Homo sapiens: one gene and its partners. The protein of the gene in region 1 purifies or fractionates together with the protein of each later gene. This does not show direct contact. Each region holds a gene or a part of one and is shown on either strand. Other genes may lie near its edges.

Evidence for each region. Proteins that work in one complex are often made in the same cells at the same time.
Region 2: the proteins of HOXC10 (region 1) and SNX15 purify together in Homo sapiens (affinity purification with mass spectrometry; 2 studies listed by BioGRID and IntAct, with this or other methods). This does not show direct contact.
Region 3: the proteins of HOXC10 (region 1) and TRMU purify together in Homo sapiens (affinity purification with mass spectrometry; 2 studies listed by BioGRID and IntAct, with this or other methods). This does not show direct contact.

What each region holds. Positions count from the first base shown.
Region 1 is NC_000012.12:53,979,862-53,989,370, forward strand, and holds the start of HOXC10 (homeobox protein Hox-C10), read left to right. Parts: upstream 1-5,284; 5' UTR 5,285-5,398; coding exon 5,399-6,149; intron 6,150-9,307; coding exon 9,308-9,509. UniProt on the Homo sapiens protein: Sequence-specific transcription factor which is part of a developmental regulatory system that provides cells with specific positional identities on the anterior-posterior axis.
Region 2 is NC_000011.10:65,037,270-65,041,072, reverse strand, and holds the end of SNX15 (sorting nexin-15), read right to left. Parts: intron 2,502-3,803; coding exon 2,244-2,501; intron 1,388-2,243; coding exon 1,281-1,387; 3' UTR 501-1,280; downstream 1-500. UniProt on the Homo sapiens protein: May be involved in several stages of intracellular trafficking. Overexpression of SNX15 disrupts the normal trafficking of proteins from the plasma membrane to recycling endosomes or the TGN.
Region 3 is NC_000022.11:46,352,545-46,357,840, reverse strand, and holds the end of TRMU (mitochondrial tRNA-specific 2-thiouridylase 1), read right to left. Parts: intron 4,075-5,296; coding exon 3,974-4,074; intron 2,398-3,973; coding exon 2,253-2,397; intron 1,852-2,252; coding exon 1,769-1,851; intron 1,000-1,768; coding exon 835-999; 3' UTR 501-834; downstream 1-500. UniProt on the Homo sapiens protein: Catalyzes the 2-thiolation of uridine at the wobble position (U34) of mitochondrial tRNA(Lys), tRNA(Glu) and tRNA(Gln).

The DNA.
Region 1 (9,509 bases):
GGAAACTCCTGCCCAGAGGTTGCAGTGGTTGCAGGACCAAAGGAGACAGAGGGCCCAGCAGGGCTGCAGTCCAGGAGCAGAGAACAAAGGCGGCCATGTGGGAGATGGCCTTGCCCACGGATGACCCCTGGACCTGCCCCTCAACCTGGGACTGACAAAATCCCACTCGCTCATTTCCCCTGACTCCAGCCTTGGGAGCACCAACTGGGCTCAACTTTGGGCCATTTTAATGTTTCAGCTCCGGAGGTCAGGACAAAGATGGGACAGACTTCTCCAAAGGTAGGCCTGGTAGACAAGCCTCCTTTGGGGTGATGGAAGTGAAAATACATGACCCCTGAATCCTAGCACTTCAAGAAGCCATCAGCACTAGTGTGGATGTGCCCCAGAATCCTATTTTTCCTCCCTCTAATGGCGACTGCTGGGGCCTGGCTGCTGATGACTGGCAGCCCTACACTTCGCCTTGTGAGGAGGAGCTGAGCTAAGGCTGTAGGCGGGAGAAGGTCAACTCCAAGCCTTAGCAGCTGGGCTAGGGAGGCATGCGACTGAGCCTGGTGCTGTCCCCCTCACTAAGCCCAGCACACCAGAGAAAAATAAGAAAGGCTAGGAAAGAAAGTCAGGGGGAAGGAAATAATTGGAGAGAGAAAAGAGCAAAGAATTAATTGTATAATAAAGAAAGAAGGAAACAAGGAAATGGGAGAAATAAGGAAGACAAGAAAGAGAAAGGATTGGAAAAAGTAGGAAAAAATAAATTACAGGAAGAAAAAAGAAAAAGAAAAACAGAAAGAAGCAAATAAAGAGAAAAGAGAAGGATGAAACAAGAAGGAAAGAAAGAAGAGAAGAAAAAAAAAGAAAAATAAGAAAGGAAAGGAAGGCAAACAGAGATCTTTGAAAAGGAACTTAACCGGTAAGAAAGGTTCGGTGTTTTTCTCCGGAGCAAGCCAGCCTAACCACAGCCCCGACTCTAGCTAGAAACCTGACTTACTGGGGGCAACTTAGAAGCAAACCACTAAAGTGGGGGGCAGGGCCTGCCCCTAAGACATCCTCCCACCCTCCTCCCAAAGCTTCTCTCCGAGGTGTCTTCGGTCTGGTTTCAATTCAGGGGACAAAATTAAATAACTGGCCAGCTTCGGCAGGGCCAGGAAGCAGTCAGACTGGCGCGGGTTATTAGAATTCGGGATTCGGAGATCTTAGACAGCACTTTGGGTAAAAGTGAATATCTGTGGCTGTGTACACATATTTAAGTGCAAGTTAGACACGTGTATAGATGCTGAACTCCGTAGCATCTGTGTGCAAGTGTGTGCAATGTCAAGACGTGAGAGATTCTGCTGGCCGAGCTGCCTGGGGGGCTGTGAGGTCCACAGTAGACCAGAGGCCCTGCTAAGTGTCCTCAGCCTCCTACCTCCCTCTAGTACCTGTTTGAAAATCTTTTTCTTTTCTGGGTCTCTGGGCATTCCGAATTTTGCCTGGAATTTCCCTGCTCCCAATTCAGCTGGGGCAGAGCCTGGTGCTAGTGAAGAAGAAAAGCGAATCTTTTCTTCAAGTTTTGGGAAGGGAAGGATTTATCTCGGCCTCCAAAGCAAGAGGAAAAAACCTGCAATCTCTGGTGTGATTCTGTTTCCTCTTTGCTTAAAAAGATTTCAATACACACACTTTATTTTTATTTTATTATTTAACCCAAAAGGGAAAGACATTCTTCCTTTTTCACTTCATCTTCAGAATTTCCCAGTTGACTTTCTTAACCTGTTGGGGAAACTCCAATTTTTTGCTGGAGAAACCAGGGTGCTTCTGGGGTGTGTTGAGGGCTACAGCCAAGAAAGCAACAAAGGTCCTTTTTTGTTCATTGAGCATATTTTCCTTCTTCTGCTTTCACGTGGGGACCCCTAGCGCCCCAGCCCTTGGGCTGCCCTGTGGAACCCGCTGGATCCTCCCAGAGTATTCACAGAGCTCCTGAACCCTCCTCCTCTGCATTGCTCACAGCCCCACAGACAGAAGGAGGCCCAGCCCCGTCCTTGTTGCCTTTCCAGGATCTGGGTACCCGGGAAGGGAGAAAGGGGCCAGGGCATTGGCCCTGGGTGGGATTTGTCAGGTCGTATGCACAGCTTGAGCCCCACTGTGGCTTGCAGCCCCTGGATTTTCATGTTCCCAAGTTGAGGTAAGAGGGGGGAGCCCCAGACGTAGGCATAGGCATAGGTGTCTCAGCGCCCTCGGAAAGTTGGGGAAATGGATTAATAAAAGTCCATATGTGGGTGATTCTAGCAACACAGGCCTCCCCTGGATCCTAATCCAGTTGCCAAGGGCACAGGCTGAAGGATCTTGGCCCTGTGGGGCAGGGCGGTGGGTGCCTGGCAGTGGCGGCAGGCGGGGTCGCTGTGGCGGCCCGCATGCCTTTGAACGCCAGGCCCGGACAATAGGACCGAAACAGCCTTTGCTCGTGGCCTCGGGAAAGACCGAGCCCAAGGGGGCAGGGCTGGGACCCAGGCCCGCACAAATGCTCCCTTCGCCAGGATAAAACACTCACTTTTTCCTTCCTTTTACCTCCACTGAAGCAGAATCTCAAAGTCTGTGAAAACCCAACAAGTTATTCAGGTCTGCGTCCGAGCGGGCTCTAGTTTAGCAGCACCGGGTTTTCGTTTATCTTGCGTAATTAGAGGCAAACATTTGTCCCACCGGGGGTCCCACTTAGGCTGATGAATTTGATTTCTTTTTTCATTAATCGGCCGTGTTTATCATACTTCTAATTATTTCAACTTTAAACACTATTCTGTCTTGTGAGGAGGTGGGAGTCGAGGCGGGAGGCTCCTCCCTGGAGTATTATTTTCATTAATGATGGCGATAATTCCGAAGCGACTCTGTCCTCTCCCTTGGCTAAGGTGAGAGGTGGGCTTGGAAAGAGGTTGGGTGGTGGGACCCCTGAGGCCGATGGGTCTGCTCCCTGTCTGCTGGTTCCCCAGGCTACGCCTTGGGGCTTGTCTGAAGTTTATCTCCTTCACCCTTTCCTGCCGACTCCTTCACCCCCTCCCAGGCTGGGCTCAAACCCTTTGCGGCTCTTCCCTGGAAACCTTTCTCTGATCCCAGCCTGTCCTGGCTGGCCTGGGCAGAGGCTCGGGTAGCACTGTCCTGGCCCCCAGCTACTAACACCCAGAGAAAAAAAAAAAGAAAAGGCTGAGGTGGCCAAGGGCCACTTGGCCGTGGGGAAAAGGACCCACCAGACTCCAAAGTGGGGGGTAAGGGTAGGGAACTGGGACGCTAAATTCCTGGGAAAAGCACACCAGGCAGGAAAATAAAGGAGACGTGAAAGAGGGGGGAGGGAACCCCCAAAGCCATATAATTCTCAATTGCTTTGGTATTTAATTTCATCGTCCCATAAATGAGGAAATATCAGTTCCCATACTAAATTTTTATCCCTGGCTGATAAATATGACGGGAAATTTTCGTTGGGTCCTCGTAAAAGGGAACGGTTTCGATCAAACTGGTGGGGAAAGACTAATGCAGATAATACAAACAGAGTGGCCATAAAGTCTCGCCCGTTTCCCGCGGGATGGGCGGTGGGACAAATGGCTCCCTGGATTGACTGCTGCCCGGACTGTCCCAAGTCTGGGGCCTAAACAGCCTAACCTTGCCCTGGATAACCCCCATGCTGAGGCCACGGTGACCCTGCATATGAAAACACAAAACCATTTCAAATCTCCCCTGGCCGGTCCTGCAAGCAAATCATACACTCCACATTTCCTTCCAGTTTTCCGGAGGTTCAGGAACCCCTGCGTCTTCTCTCTCCACCCCTGGATGGGGAAATTCGGCGGATTTCTTTCTGCGGTCTTCTAGCCGCAGCGGGCTTGGGCCTCCTTAGAAACGGTCTAGCCTCCTCACTCCTCCACTCCAGGGCGCTGGGCTCCAGTCCTTTCCCCGCCAAACTCCAGCCCTTCGGAAAGTCTGAACCCTAGGCTCTGTCCAAGGAAAAATGTGGGGCGACAGGAAAGACAAGTTGTTCTCCAGATTCCGTTTCCTGAGGAAGGGGTGGAGAGTTTAGTTCGCTTTGGAAGAAGGCGATGGAGAAACGGAAATAACTGTTTGAAACATACGGTTCCCCTTATTTCTTCCTTTTATTTAAAAACAACCACAAAAATAGACTGGTCTGTCTTCTTTCAAACATGCTCCCAGCCCGTGCGCTCTGTAAAGGACGCTTCTCTGGGTCGGGTTTTGTTGCGTCTTGTGTGCTGGTTTCCCGTGTGATACGTGACTCCTCCAAACTGACCGAGGCTCCGCAGGTTCCCTCTTTCTTTCCCGGAATATTCCCTGTTTTAGCGGGGGCAAGGTCAAGCGGAAAGCGAGGACCGCCAGGGCCTGAAGTAAAGCAGCAGAACCGGCTCCAAGGCCAAAGCCTTGTGGGCCCCTGAGATGGTGACCCAGGAGCCGCCCACCCTGCCAGGCCCAGGCCACAGCTCTCGGGTCGGGGATCGGGTGCCTCTGGTCTCTGGCTTCCTCTTTCCCCTACCCCGCGTCCATTCGGAACCTCCTTTTCCGAGCAGCCATGAAGTGACCGTGACCCCCTCCCTGGCCCACCCTAGAGGCTGGAGATTCCCAGTCAACCCCCACAGGAAACTTGCAACTCCAGCGCCGCGGCCCCCAAGCTTCCAGCCCCGAGGGCCAAGCCCGGGGAAAAGAGGAGGCGGGAGAGCAGAAACTTTAGTCCTGTTTGGTATTCCTTAACTTTTTTTCCCCTTTCTCTGCTCATCAGATCCCCCCAAACCCCCCCCCCCACAAACCTCACCCCACTCCCATCCCCAAGGTAAGAAGTGGGAGTCGGGTCCGGGGATATGGAAAGGGGAGATGAAGAGTGGGGAGAAGTACCTGATTCGTGTCTCGACCTTTTAATTTGAATTTGACTGTTTTGAGCCCCGGGTTGCCTCGCTCTCTCCCTCTCTCCCGCATTTCCCCCCTCTCCGCCCCCTTCTCCCCAGGAGTTACAGGCTGGTTACTGGATAAACAAACCCCACTCTTCCTAGAACCCCCACCCCCACCCCCACCCCCCTCCACCCCTCTACCTCCCCTGCCGCCCGGGGGGCGCTTCCTTTGTTCGCGGGGAAGGGCTCCGGTGCCCCTACCCCGAGGCAGCTGCTAGATGGCGCTGTTACTCCACTCTGCGCGCTCCGCCTGCCGACAACTTGACCCCGCTGACGTCACGGCCGTCTGAATCATCAAGGCCATTTTCAAATCCCATTGGTCTAGCCGTCACATGGTGAGAACCGAATGCGCGGATAATTACGGAGCTGATATTTCCCCCCCTCCCCTTCTTTTTCCTCCCTCCCCTCCAACCGCGCCCCCCCTCCCGGATGGGGAAAAAAAAAGATGTCAGCTCCTCCGCTGTAGTATTGCTCCTTAAAAACCCCTCTCTCTGAAAATGACATGCCCTCGCAATGTAACTCCGAACTCGTACGCGGAGCCCTTGGCTGCGCCCGGCGGAGGAGAGCGCTATAGCCGGAGCGCAGGCATGTATATGCAGTCTGGGAGTGACTTCAATTGCGGGGTGATGAGGGGCTGCGGGCTCGCGCCCTCGCTCTCCAAGAGGGACGAGGGCAGCAGCCCCAGCCTCGCCCTCAACACCTATCCGTCCTACCTCTCGCAGCTGGACTCCTGGGGCGACCCCAAAGCCGCCTATCGCCTGGAACAACCTGTTGGCAGGCCGCTGTCCTCCTGCTCCTACCCACCTAGTGTCAAGGAGGAGAATGTCTGCTGCATGTACAGCGCAGAGAAGCGGGCGAAAAGTGGCCCCGAGGCAGCTCTCTACTCCCACCCCTTGCCGGAGTCCTGCCTTGGGGAGCACGAGGTACCCGTGCCCAGCTACTACCGCGCCAGCCCGAGCTACTCCGCGCTGGACAAGACGCCCCACTGTTCTGGGGCCAACGACTTCGAAGCCCCTTTCGAGCAGCGGGCCAGTCTCAACCCGCGCGCCGAACATCTGGAATCGCCTCAGCTGGGGGGCAAAGTGAGTTTCCCTGAGACCCCCAAGTCCGACAGCCAGACCCCCAGCCCCAATGAAATCAAGACGGAGCAGAGCCTGGCGGGCCCTAAAGGGAGCCCCTCGGAGAGCGAAAAGGAGAGGGCCAAAGCTGCCGACTCCAGCCCAGACACCTCGGATAACGAAGCGAAAGGTAAGGCCGCCTGGGCCGCGGGCGCCACTGGGACGTTCCGGCACTTGGTCTTCGCGGCCGGGGAGGGGGGCAGGGGAGAGGGTTGGGCCCAGGAGGCCCCAGACCATTTCGGGAATGCGACCCTGGCTTTCGACTAGCGTCCGCTGAGCTCCAGGCTGGTGGCGCGTCACTTAGCTGGGGAAGGTAAGCGGCGACGTGGAGGTGTCGGCCCTGCCCCGGCCATGGGTGCTAAGGCGGGGGCGGTGCGCACCGCGGGCCGCCTGCAGGCGCAGTGTGCTGCACCGGACGGGTGGCTGCTCCCAGGCGCGTGCTGGCTGTGGTTTGCTTTCTCAATGCTGGTGTCCTGGGGAGCTGACGTCCCCCAGCTCAGGTCAGGGGCTTGCAAAAAGCCTAAAATGGCGATCTTGGGCCAGGGACTAGGGAAGGCTGGGGAGATGGGGGGAGTTCTCTTTACTGCGTTTTCCCAGTTGAAAATTGTTTCCTGCGAAACGCGATTTGTTGTTTGTGGGTCTGATTTGTGCGTGCGGCTTGGGCTCCTGCGGCTTTTGGCTCGGCCGGGGGCCTTGGGCAGCGAGGCTGGAGCCGGAAGAGGTGGAGGTGAAGGGCTGCCCGCCACGTCCCTCCCTCCTCCAGATGCCTGGCTTGGATGGCGTTGGAACAGGGCATTTGGAATGTTGTAAGTTTTCTGTTTCCTCTTTTAATTTTTTCTTTTCCATTTTTTTCTAGTTAAATTATCTTTTTTCATTGGTTTCCAAAAGCAGCTTACAAATGAGTGGTTGGGAAATTTCTGTGTGCGTGGCAAGAGGTTTTCTCCTGAAAGGGAATGTGGCTTTGGTTGGATTTCACTGTAATTTTGGTTGAGAGAAAGCCCAGCCAGAGTTCAAGCTCAGGGTTCAAGATTCATTTCTGCTGTAGGAGCTGGGGGCCTTCGGGATCTTTCTCTGATACTTGGGGAAAGAATGTGGAGGAAACGGGAGCAGGGGAGGAAAAGCTGAGGGGAACGACTTTTCCTGAAAAGTTGTAGCAAGAGCCTCAGAAAAAGGCCCAACCAACGGGGAAGAATAAACCTGCTCCCCACAACACCGGCTACTGGTGACAGTATATAAGGGGCTCATTGGGTGTAGAGGAAGATGAAATACTGAGAGCGGAGCAGGCTGGGGGCGGCCTGGATCTCCTGGTGCTTTGTATATGGATGCGACGCACACGCATGCCTACGGGCGACCTGTGCCACACTCACGCACATCCATATTGCATGATCCTTGCACACTCACGCATGCCCGCTCACACATGCACAGGCACTCTTTTGGCGGGCAAGGGCAGAGCCTCATCCCCTTGGGTCTGCAAAGGTGGTCTTGGTAAATCATCCCCATAGAGACACTGACTGGAAGATGAGCGCTGGTGTGTTCATGAGGATAAGGGGGAGAGTGAGGCGCCTACAGCCTCAAAGCCTTTCGTTTGGCACGTGTGCAGTGTGAAGGTTTAATCTTATACCCTCTCTACAGACCCTGAGCTTGGTTAGGGAGCAGATTTGGGGCAGGAAAACCTGCATTCTAGCCCCCACCAAAAGCAAAGTCAAGGTTAACAAGTTCACCTCTTAACTCGACCTGCACCCATTCCCATAGGCTCTCCCTTTCCTCTAGCTGTCCCCACAGCAACCTAATCCCTCCCACCCCAAGGAATCCCTCTTACCCTGTACCCTCTCTGTGCCCTTCTTTCCTCTCCTCCTGTTTTGATGTCTCCACCAGGCCAGAGGCAAGAGAGCTTTTGATTAAACTTCCCCATTTATAATTTGTCTTGTCCCCCCACCCCACCAAACCTAACAACTCCAGTAAGAAAATAAACAGGACGTAGTTAGATGTGGAGAGCTTGTAAACAATCTGGCAAGAAGCTGCAGGTGCAGAGACAGGAGAGAAAATTCGGGACATTCAGATTTTTTTAGACTGCAACCTCAAGTTTGCCTTTTTTGTGTGTTTTCTGGTTCCTCTTAGGCCCCCGCCTCACCCCGCCCCCAACAAGATAAGATCCAGGAACCTGGCAGCCTCATTGGAATAGGGAGGAGAGAGAGCTCAGAGCCATCAGCAGAGTCCTTTGCTGGGTGTCCTCTCAGGTCTTTGGACTCTGTTTTTTGCCCTTAAAAAGATGGCCAGGTTCCCTTCTGCTACTTGAGAAGCAAGGCTGGTCCATTTCAGCAAGAATGTGTGTCAGGGATAGAGGCTGTCAATAAGCTCATGGGAAATACACAGTATTCTATAGTATCTCCTTACAAAAAAAGACTCATGTACATATCTATGTGTGTGTACTTATGTGTATAGGTGTGTGTATCTCTGCAGGTATACATGTGTACTTGCAGGCATACACATCTACGTATGCACAGACTGGGCAGGGGGTTTCTAGGAGGCTGCATTTCCTCAGGATATGTCTCTCCCTTGACCTTAGGTCCTTTGGCCAGGAAAGTTGTTTGAGGACCCCTTAGGTTGCCCCAGCTCTGTTGCCCCTGACCTCTGCTGCTCTTACAAGCTCCCCTCAGCTGCACATACCTGGGAGAAATGATTAAGAGAGGAAGAGATGGCAATGGGAGACCTAAGGGAGCAGAGTCACTCTGTGGCAGCTCAGGTTGGGGTAAGAGCTGGGGGCCCAGGACAGGGACCACTGCAGTGGCCTCTGGCCACAGATCCTGGAACAAAGTCCCTCCACTGAGTTGAAACAGGTCAAAGCTCTCTGGGAATTTCTCTGGTCTGTGGGTGGACTCTGCTCTGGTCTGGGGCCTGGAAAATGCTTTTCCATCTGGTTGGATTTTTCCAGAGCTGGAATGGAACAGAGAGAAGGGGGGATCTGGCAAGGTTTAGGGAATCTGCCAGGGTCAGCCAGCTGGGGGAAAGCCAGGGTACTCAGGATCTTTTAGATTAAGGTGGACTTGGGTAATTTAAATTTAATAAATGCTTGGAGGCAAGAACTTCCTCCCTTTATCTCCCTAAGTCTAAACCCCAAAGAAATTGTAAGAACCTTGAGCCTAAGAGGAGCCCACCGCCAGGCCCCTGGGGCAAGAGCAGCTCCCCTGTGCTCCCTCAGCCACCCCACAGCAGGCTGGCAAAGGCTGCAGCGCTGAGAGGGTTTTCGACTTCGAGGGATACTTATGTAAATAATGTTATTTTTAACAGAGGAGATAAAGGCAGAAAACACCACAGGAAATTGGCTGACAGCAAAGAGCGGAAGGAAGAAGAGGTGCCCCTATACTAAACACCAGACGCTGGAATTGGAGAAAGAATTTCTGTTCAATATGTATTTGACGCGAGAGCGCCGCCTGGAGATTAGCAAGACCATTAACCTTACAGACAGACAAGTCAAAATCTGGTTTCAAAA
Region 2 (3,803 bases), on another chromosome or scaffold:
GCGTTGTAGTCCAGCTACGCCTCTGCGGCTCCGCGCGCTCTAGGGCGGCTAACGGCCCCCATCGAGCGCCAAGTTCAGCTTCGCGCGCTCCCCTTAGTGTTTTTAACGTGTAGCCCGGGCCGCTCCCATGATACACCGGTGTAGTCCCTGCCGCAACCAACCGCTTTGTGGTGAGGCGGGGCGGGGCGGGGCTGAGGCCACGCCTTCCAGCCCGCTGAGCAATCAGGATTTGGCTTTGGGGCCTCTGAGACAAGTACCCGGGCTTTGGGTTCCTCTCCTTCGTCCCTTCCACCCAATAAACCGGCTCCATCGGCTTGTCCTCTATTTCCCTGAGACTATGCTCCCTATTTTCTAGCTCAGGGGCCAGCAAATGTTTTCTGCAAAGGGCCAGGTTGTAAATGTTTTGGGATTTGCAGGCGGCAAAGACTCAACTCTGCAACTGTTTCAACTGCCAGTGTAGCGCGAAAGCAGCTATCACAATACTAAATGAATTAGCCTGGTTGTGTTCCAACAAATTTTATTTATGGACTCTTAAATTTCATATAATTTTCACTTGTCACATATAAATTTCACCTGTCATTGTCACAGAATATTATTTTGATTTTTTTAATCATTAAAAAAAGTAAAAACCACTCTCACAGCCCTTACATTAAAAAGGAGGTGGGCCAGATTTGGCTGCAGGTGGGAGTTTGCAGACCCCAGTTCTAGAGGGGTAAACTAATGGTTTAATGACCACAGCTGCTGCTCACACATCAAGACAGACAGACATGGGCCGGGCGTAGTGACTCATGCCTGTAATCTCAGCACTTTGGGAGACTGAGGCGGGTGGATCACTTGAGGTCAGGAGTTCGAGACCAGCCTGGCCAACATGGTGTAACCCCGTCCCTACTGAAAATACAAAATATTAGCTGGGCGTGGTGGCATGTGCCTGCAATCTCAGCTACTGGGGAGGCTGAGACAGGAGAACTGCTTGAACCTGGGAGGTGGAGGTTGCAGTGAGCCGCGATCCCACCACTGCACTCCAGTCTGGGCGACACAGCGAGACTCCAACTCAAAAAAACCCCAAAAAGACAGGCAGGGTCAGAAGTGTGAGTCCTTGATTCCAAGGTGGCAGGTGTAATCAGGGAGCTAAGAATTCATTATTTTTCTCATTCTTGGTCCAGTTACCTACAGAAATGGCTCCTGTAATTACAAGACCAGGAGGTAGGGCCAGGCCCTGGGGAGAGGAGAAGGGGCTGGCAGTGCAGGAGCGAGAGTCCCAGGGAATGGCCCACTCCCTGTTAGGGTGGGAGTTGAGACAGGTGCAGGCGCAGGATCTCCTCTGCCCGCTTCAGGTACTCAGCTGCCTTCTTCTTCACACCTTCCTGGCGGGCAGGCAACGGGTCACCTGTGGAGAGAGAATGCTCAGCTGAGGCACCTGGGCACCACTGGCCTGGTCAGAACCCCTGGTCGGGTCCTTTACAATTCGCAGAGCATCACCATGTGCTTTTCCCTCCTCTCTGGGGCCCAGCATCCATTCTCCTCAGTCTACAAATAAGAAAACTGAGGCCATGCTGGGCGCGGTGGCTCACGCCTGTAATCCCAGCACTTTGGGAGGCCGAGGTGGGTGGATCACGAGGTCAGGGGTTCGAGACCAGCCTGACCAACATGGTGAAAGCCCATCTCTACTAAAACTACAAAAATTCGCTGGGCGTGGTGGCACGTGCCTGTAATCCCAGCTACTCAGGAGGCTGAGGCAGGAGAATGGCTTGAACCTGGGAGGTGGAGGTTGCAGTGAGCCAAGATTGTGCCACTGCACTCCAGCCTGGGCGACAGAGCGAGACTCTGTCTCAAAAAATAAAAATAAATAAATAAAAATAAATAAAAAATAAAAATTCAAAAATTAGCCAGGCATGGTGGTGGGCGCCTGTAATCCCAGCTAGTCGGGAGGCTGAGGCAGTAGAATCACTTGAACCTGGGGGGCGGAGGTTGCAGTGAGCCGAGATTGTGCACTCCAGCCTGCAACAAGAGCAAGACTCTGTCTCAAAAAAAAAAAAAAAAAAAGAGGAAGAAGAAAACTGAGGCCACAAGAGGTTAAAAACAACAACAACAAAAAAACAGAAACAAAAATCTGCCCAGGTTACACAGCTGGTCAGTGAGGAGTAAAAGGGCTCCTGATCCGTGATTTGCTTGTTTTTTTGCTCCCTTCATCACTGCCCCACCTGGGACCCAGGCCTGACCCTCCACCCTCAGTCCCTACTCACTGGGGACTCCCTGAAGCAAGACGTGCACGCCGTCTCGATAGCCCTGGAGTGCAGCAGCGTAAGCGCCTGCCTTCTCATCCCGCAGGGCCTGGGTGATGAGCTCTGTGGCCTGGCTTAGGTAGGCAGGGGTGGGCCCTCCTTCCCCATCCTCTTCCTCCTCCTGCCCTCCTGGCTCCCAGGGTTCCTGGTCCAGCCTTGCAGACTCCACCTCCATCGTTGCCAGCTCAGCCACATGGGTGGGGCTGGGGGCTGCGCCTTCTGCAGTTAGAAAGGGAGGACTCGGACCAGACTGGCCCTTCCTTTCCCAGGCCCTCTGCCCAACCCCAAGACTTCTTTTGTCCATCAGGGTATCAGCCTGTCCCCAGTAGAGGGGACCAATGCCAGAGCAATCCAGAAGTCGTCTGTGGATCAAAAACTAGCCATGAGCTATTTGATCGATAGGGTTCATGTGCTTCTGTAAAAACAGCCTTACCTTCCTAATTATGTCTTTAGGTACACACTCTAGTTTGTAAGCTCTGGGTCACTGGTCCTATTTCCCTCTTGACTCCAGTTGACCTAGAAATCCAAAAATCCCCTCCAGAAAGTTTCCCTGAAGGATGCTAGGCCACCACCACCAGGCTGAGGGTAGAAATGCTCCAAGACTTGGAATAATCTTAGAATAGGAGACTTAGAGAATCTCAGGGGTTTTCTGAAGCCTTGCAGTTTCAGCTGAGGCCCCCAAATGTAAAGACAGTGAGTGACAGGTGTCCTCACATTTCCCAGGTAAAGGCTCATTATATCCCCCTGGACTGGCTAAAAGGGGGTCGGACATCCTACCTGCAGCTTACACACGAGGCGACTGGAAATCTGGTGCACCTTTGGTGAAAAGGCCTCTGAGGGGAAGGTGCGGGGGCAGGAAGCATCATGATACCCTATCATCCTGGAGAGGGAAAAAGTGGGTGCCTCTCTAACCCCATCCCTGTGAGTTCCATGAGAGCCCTGAGAAGTCCGGGCCTCCTGCAGGAGGGAGAAGGCACCTCCTGGCTGGGCCTACAGCCCTCCATGTATTGCTCAGGGAGCAGAGAGCAGAAGAGTACCTGGGACACCTGCACACTCGAGTTAAGGAGTTTGCTGTGAAGAAGGGAGACACAGGTGCCCACTCCTTGCCTCGAGAATTCTGGTGGTGAGAGGCTTGTTGGAGGTGCCCACCATGGCAGGGTAGGGAAATAAGGCAGTGTCTGAGCACACTGCAGTTCCAGGCTTTGGGGACTTTTCCCATGGGCTGAGTGAATGTCTCATTGGAGCTGTCTGTGAAGGGTCTTGAAAAGATCCTGGCTGGACACAGTCACTCATGCCTATGATCCAGCACTTTGGGAGGCTGAGGTGGGAGGACTACTTGAGTCCAGGAGCTTGAGACCAGCCTGGGCAACATAGTGAGATCTCATCTCTACAAAAAATCAAAAACTTAGCTGGGCATGATGGTGCATGCCTGTGGTCCTGTCCCAGCTATTTGGGAGGCTGAGGTGGGAGGATCGCTTAAGCCTAGGAGTTGGAGGCTGCAGTGAGCCGTGATCGCACCAC
Region 3 (5,296 bases), on another chromosome or scaffold:
AGGACACTCCCTGCTGCGTGGGGGCCTAGGCTAGAAGGAAGGGTGCCCCAGGTCAGGGGACACCCAGTGGGGAGATGGGAGGAGGGGTCAGGATGGACAGTGGGCCCCATGGCAGCCCCCACCCTGACGCACCAGCAAGAACTCAGGGCATCTGGGCAAGGCCCTCTGCGCACCACCTGGCTGCCTCTGGAACCTTCCCACCCAGAGAAGGGGAATGCACCTCTGGTCCCCGCAGGAACCTGTCTTGAGGCACCAACAACACGCTACGAAGGACTCAAGCCCAGCAAGAGGAAGAGAGCCAAGGACACAGGTCAGCATCGCAGGCACCTACTCTGGAGTCCAGGAGCAGGGATACGGGGGCAGAGGATGGAGCAGCTGGGACCTCAGGGAGAGGTACGCAGGTTGCCATGGCTGCGTCTGCAGTCCACCTGCCTTTCCACGCCAGGGAGTCAGTGATGTGGAGCCCCCTGGGCCCCAGTGGAAGCAGCGATCAGACTATGTGTCCTTGAAATAATGTTTATTCCACGCTGTCCCGACAGCCCCCTCTGCAGGTCCCCTCGGTGTACTCTGAGGTGGGAAACCCTCCCTGGGGGCGGTGAAGGGGAACTCGGGCCACCCCACCAGCCAGCAGATGCTCCAGCAGCCAGAGCCCCAGCCTGGAGCTGAGGCTCTTCCTGGGGCTCGCCGGGCCCCTGCAGGCTTTTCGGACCCTCAGCCAGCCCGGCTTCCTCTGCTTTGGGCAGCAGCAAGCTGGCCCTTGGGCACCTGGACTGCTCACCAGCCGCCCAGCCATGGGTCCTGCTCTCCAGGTTCCTTCTAGCAGATCCATCTCTGTCAGAGCAAGGGACTCAGGCCTGGACCATCTTCTGGGCTGTCACTGGGGCTCTCAGTGGCCATCCCAGCTCTGCGCTGGCCCTTCTGGAGCGTGTAGGCAGACGGCCCCAGCCGCAGGATCTTCCCGCTGCCCAGGCACTCGTCCCCCTTGTAGAACACAGCAAACTGTAGGGGAGAGACCCTGGCATCAGGGGTGCCACAGGGAGCCAGCCGAGGGCAGGCAGGGGCAGAGTGCTCCCCTATGGGGCCTGGCCTGTGCTCGGAGCACCAGGCACTGAGCTCCCAGGGGAGCAGGGTTTTGCTGCTGCTGCTGCTGCTGAACAGGAGAGGAGAGGCCTGGGGCACCCAGTGGCTTCACTAGGGAGGGTCTTCAGGGTACCTCTCCCTGAGTGGGACAGTCACAGGGGCCTCTCCTGGGACTCCAAGGGACTGGCAGGTCTCTGCACCCCTTGGGAATGTGGAGCTGTGACAGGAAGGAGCATGGTGGCAGCCAGAGGATGCTTCCGCTTCCCTCACCCCAGGTTCCCTCCCACCACCTGCCCCTGGAGATTCCTCAGGCCTACACCCACCAGGCGCCCACCCTGGGAGCTCCTGCACACTCGGCCCACAGGGGCCCCGACCCTCTGCCTCTTTGAGCACTGTCCTCATGCCCCTTCCATTTTCTGTCCTCGCTTCTGGGGCCCGGGCAGCAGCTGAGCCTCTCAGGGCCCGAGCAGGAACTGGCTGGTTGGTGACACCAGAGTGGAAATCCTCTCACAGTTGTCACTGTGGGAGGAGCCCCCAGGGCAGGGCTGGTGGCACTCTGCCCTCACCAGCTGTGTGACCCGAGCACACCCTACTCCTGGGCCTCAGCCCCTTCCTCTGTAACCCGGGTGCCCTGGCAGGGTGCAGAGCAGTACAGTCCTCCCCGGGCTCACCCCCACACCCCACGCACCTGTCCTGTGGCAAGGGCACGCACAGCCTGCACAGCTGTCACCCACACGGTGCCATCTTGATTGAGGGTCAGCACACAGGGCACTGGGTAGAAGAGAGGGGCCCTTGGAGGGGGCACAGGCCTTTCCTGGTCGACCTCAGGCCCCCAGGGAGAAAGGAGCACCAGCCCACGGGGTCAAAAACCCCTGCTTAGAGGGGAAGGGCAGGGCACCAGCCTGGGCCCTGGACGCAGCAGGACACTGCGGGGCAGTGTACACACTTGCTTCAGCCCAACACGCCGGGGCCTGCCTGCATCTGCTCCCAGCACCCCCAGGCCTCGCTCAGGGCAGGCACAGGACACGGGAGTTCTAAATACTTTAGGTAATCTCCAAATGATCTCCACAACGGGACTTTCCTACCCCAGGGTCTCCCATCCCTGGCCCAAATCTGGCCTCAGGAAGCTCAGCTTCAAGGGGCCCGTCCTCAGGAGCCCTCCCGTCAGTCACCTAGTGCCATCTGGTGGCGGAATCGGAAGTGGCACTCCATCATCTTGTCCCGGACCAGTGCTGCGGGAGGCTCCTCCGCAATCCAGTGCACGCGGCTGGTCCTCAGCAGGTCCCTGTACAGGGCTGGGTGGTCTGTCCGGGGGGCCTGCAGAATGGAATGTGAAGGTGGGGACGCCGAGGGGCACCTGGCCCCAAGGCCGGCCTCAGTGTGGTCCCTGGGAACAACTGTCCTACCAGCACACACACACACAGGTAACGGTGCTGGCACCGCTCGAAGTGTTCTACCCACAGAAATTCATCTCATCACCCGCCGGGCCTTTGAATCCCCATTTTACAGATGAGGAGACTAAGGCCCAGGAAGGAAGTACCATGTCAGAGTGGGCAAGAGGCAGGGGTGAGATCCGAGCCCATGACAGTGAATGCTGCAGGTTCAAGTCTGACTCAGGCCCTCTACCTGCAACCACCTGTGGGGCAGCAGCACGGCCCCCCTCGAGGACTGGTTTTTCTATTCGCAGGGACAGGGGCCAGCCACACCACGGGCTCTTCTCTCAAGGCCACCCCAGGAATTCCTCCACACACCAAATGGCTGAGGAGAAAGGAGGGACTGGTAGCTGCTGGCTTCCCACAGGTGCCCCAGGACTGGCCCTGGTCTGGGGGGCCCCAGATACCCTAGGTTGGTTCTGAGGCCCCTGCTCCCTGTCACCCACCCATGGCCTCGGGCCATTGAGACCTGGCACCTCCTGGGATTGTGCCAAGCCCCGCCCCTGAAGCAGGACGAGGAGCATGAAGTTAAGGGCTTTGGGTTCTAAGCAGGCACCAAGACCCGTCCAGGGACAGGAGGCCGTTGGTTAACCCTTCTGGTCTTCTCACAGCAAACTGAAATCTAGATCATTTAATTCATTCGCAGCCAGGCTTTTCTCCCCACAGGTCTTCCTAGTAAGGAGATGTCCTGGAATCGGTGGGTGGGGCCTGCTGGCCCCCGCCTCCGTCTAAGAGAAGGCGCCCCAGCATTCGTGCCAGAACATGAGCCGGCAGCCAGGGTGCTGAGAGTGGGCCTTCTCAGCTCCACGCGCCAAGGTGGAGGCCGGGTCACTCAGGGAAGAGGCTGTGCTGAACACGGCAAGCAGCATCCCCGGCCTGACCCACAGATGCAGCAGCACCCGCGTCCTTGCTTTTCCACCCAAGCTGTGACAACCAAAAATGCCTCTAGACACTGGCAAGGTCCCCTGAAGGTGGGGTGAGCTTGCCGCCACTGAGCGGCCCTGCTTTGAGGCCAGGGTCACAGTGGTAAGGTCCCCACTGTGGTGGAAGGCTTGGTTTGATCCTGGCTTGGCCATCTGCACCTGCCTGACAACAACTCACTGGATCCTACCATGGTGGGCACCATCCTTGGCACTGAGGCCATGCCCTCTCCACCGGATGAGCCACCCAAGCTCTGGGCGTCGCTGTCCTCTTTCATAAAATTGGAGAAACTGTATCTGTGTATCGGGGTTCAGGGATGATTAAGAGACCAGCATACAACTCAGCCTAATGAATACCTTAAAACTCTCCTGCCACCATGGCCAGTCCCAGGAAAGGCAGGGGACCAAGGACAGGAACAGAGTTAGTCACAGCCTCCAGGAAGCCACGGCTGCTGGAGGCCTTCTCAAGCCCTGGTCTGGAAGCACTGCTGGCCCTGCCAGAACCAGCCCCAGTGCTGTCTCAGAGGCCGGCCCACTCACCACAAACACGTCACCCTTGACGCTGTCCTTCTCCACCACGTACCAGGGCTCTCTCAGGCCACCTATGTTTGCTCTCTGGCCCAAGGTATACAGGAACCAACCTACAGAAAGACAGTTTCTCCATGAGGCTGGGCAACAAGTTACAGCCCACATGTCACGCCTCATCATGAAGGCAGATGCTGGGAGGGCAGCCCAGAGCAGGCCCAGCAATGGTGTAACTCACTAGGAAGATACGATTCTCCAACCACCAAAGCCAGCCCTGACCAAGCACCTGAGCACATCTCATCATTGTCCAGGCCTGGGCTGGACATGGGGTGTGGTGGCCACAAAGAAGGCACCTTGTGCCCCAGAAGGTGCAGGTTCCAGCTGTAGGAGCCCCTGACCCTAGGCCCAGGATGCGGCTGGGTGCCCTGTGTGACGCCAGGGGCCCTTCTTGCTGAGCCCATGACATAGCTGCACGTCTTCACAGTGTCCATCTAATGCAGTAACTGCATCAGGGCTACCCCCAGCTGCTCTGCGCACCCTCACAATGTCACACAGCAGATGGCAAACTCACTGCCTCCCTCCCCTGCAGTGGGGCACACAGGCAGAGAGAACCTCATGGGATTTACCACGTGGCCTGGGCCGGCAGCCTTCTTCAGTGAAGTGAACTGCAGGTGGAAGCCATGAGTCATCCAACTGGCTCCTGCTGGGGCCAGGGCTGGCAGATACATGGGCAATCCTGTCTGGCAGTTCTGTCCCAAGCAAAGCTGTCACCTCCACCTGTCTCAGGAATGCCTAGCCCCGGCTCCGCCTGCCGTCTCCCCTCCACAAGAGGTGGAAGATCTCCAAGTGCAATTCACTGCAAGACGCCCTACACCTGAGCTGCAGCCTGGCTCTCCTGGCCAGTCCCACAGCTCAGGTCTGTGCTGTGTCAAGACCTGCCTGATCATCACGCCGGCAGGCACATCCCCGCCACTGTACTAACCCAACAATGGCTGCACTCTGTCCCCACAGCAGGACTGCACACTGTGACTGACTCGGAGCCTGTCCCCTGACACCAGGCACAGCACAGGCTCACGCAGGCCTCACCGCAGTAAGGGTCTGCACATGAGCGAGCAGCACTCTGGCCAGCGCGGACGCCTGATCCCATCGCTGCATGTGGTCCTTAATCATTCACACCATGCCGGGACGTCCACCTTACTCCCTGAATCAGAGTGGAGTTTTGTGTAGTTTAACATTTTCCTTACACAGGAAGGAAATCATTCTTTTTACAGGGACTTGATACGTAACTCACAGAGTATAGTCCTTCCAAGTCAGAGGCGCGCTTTTCATGAACTCCAG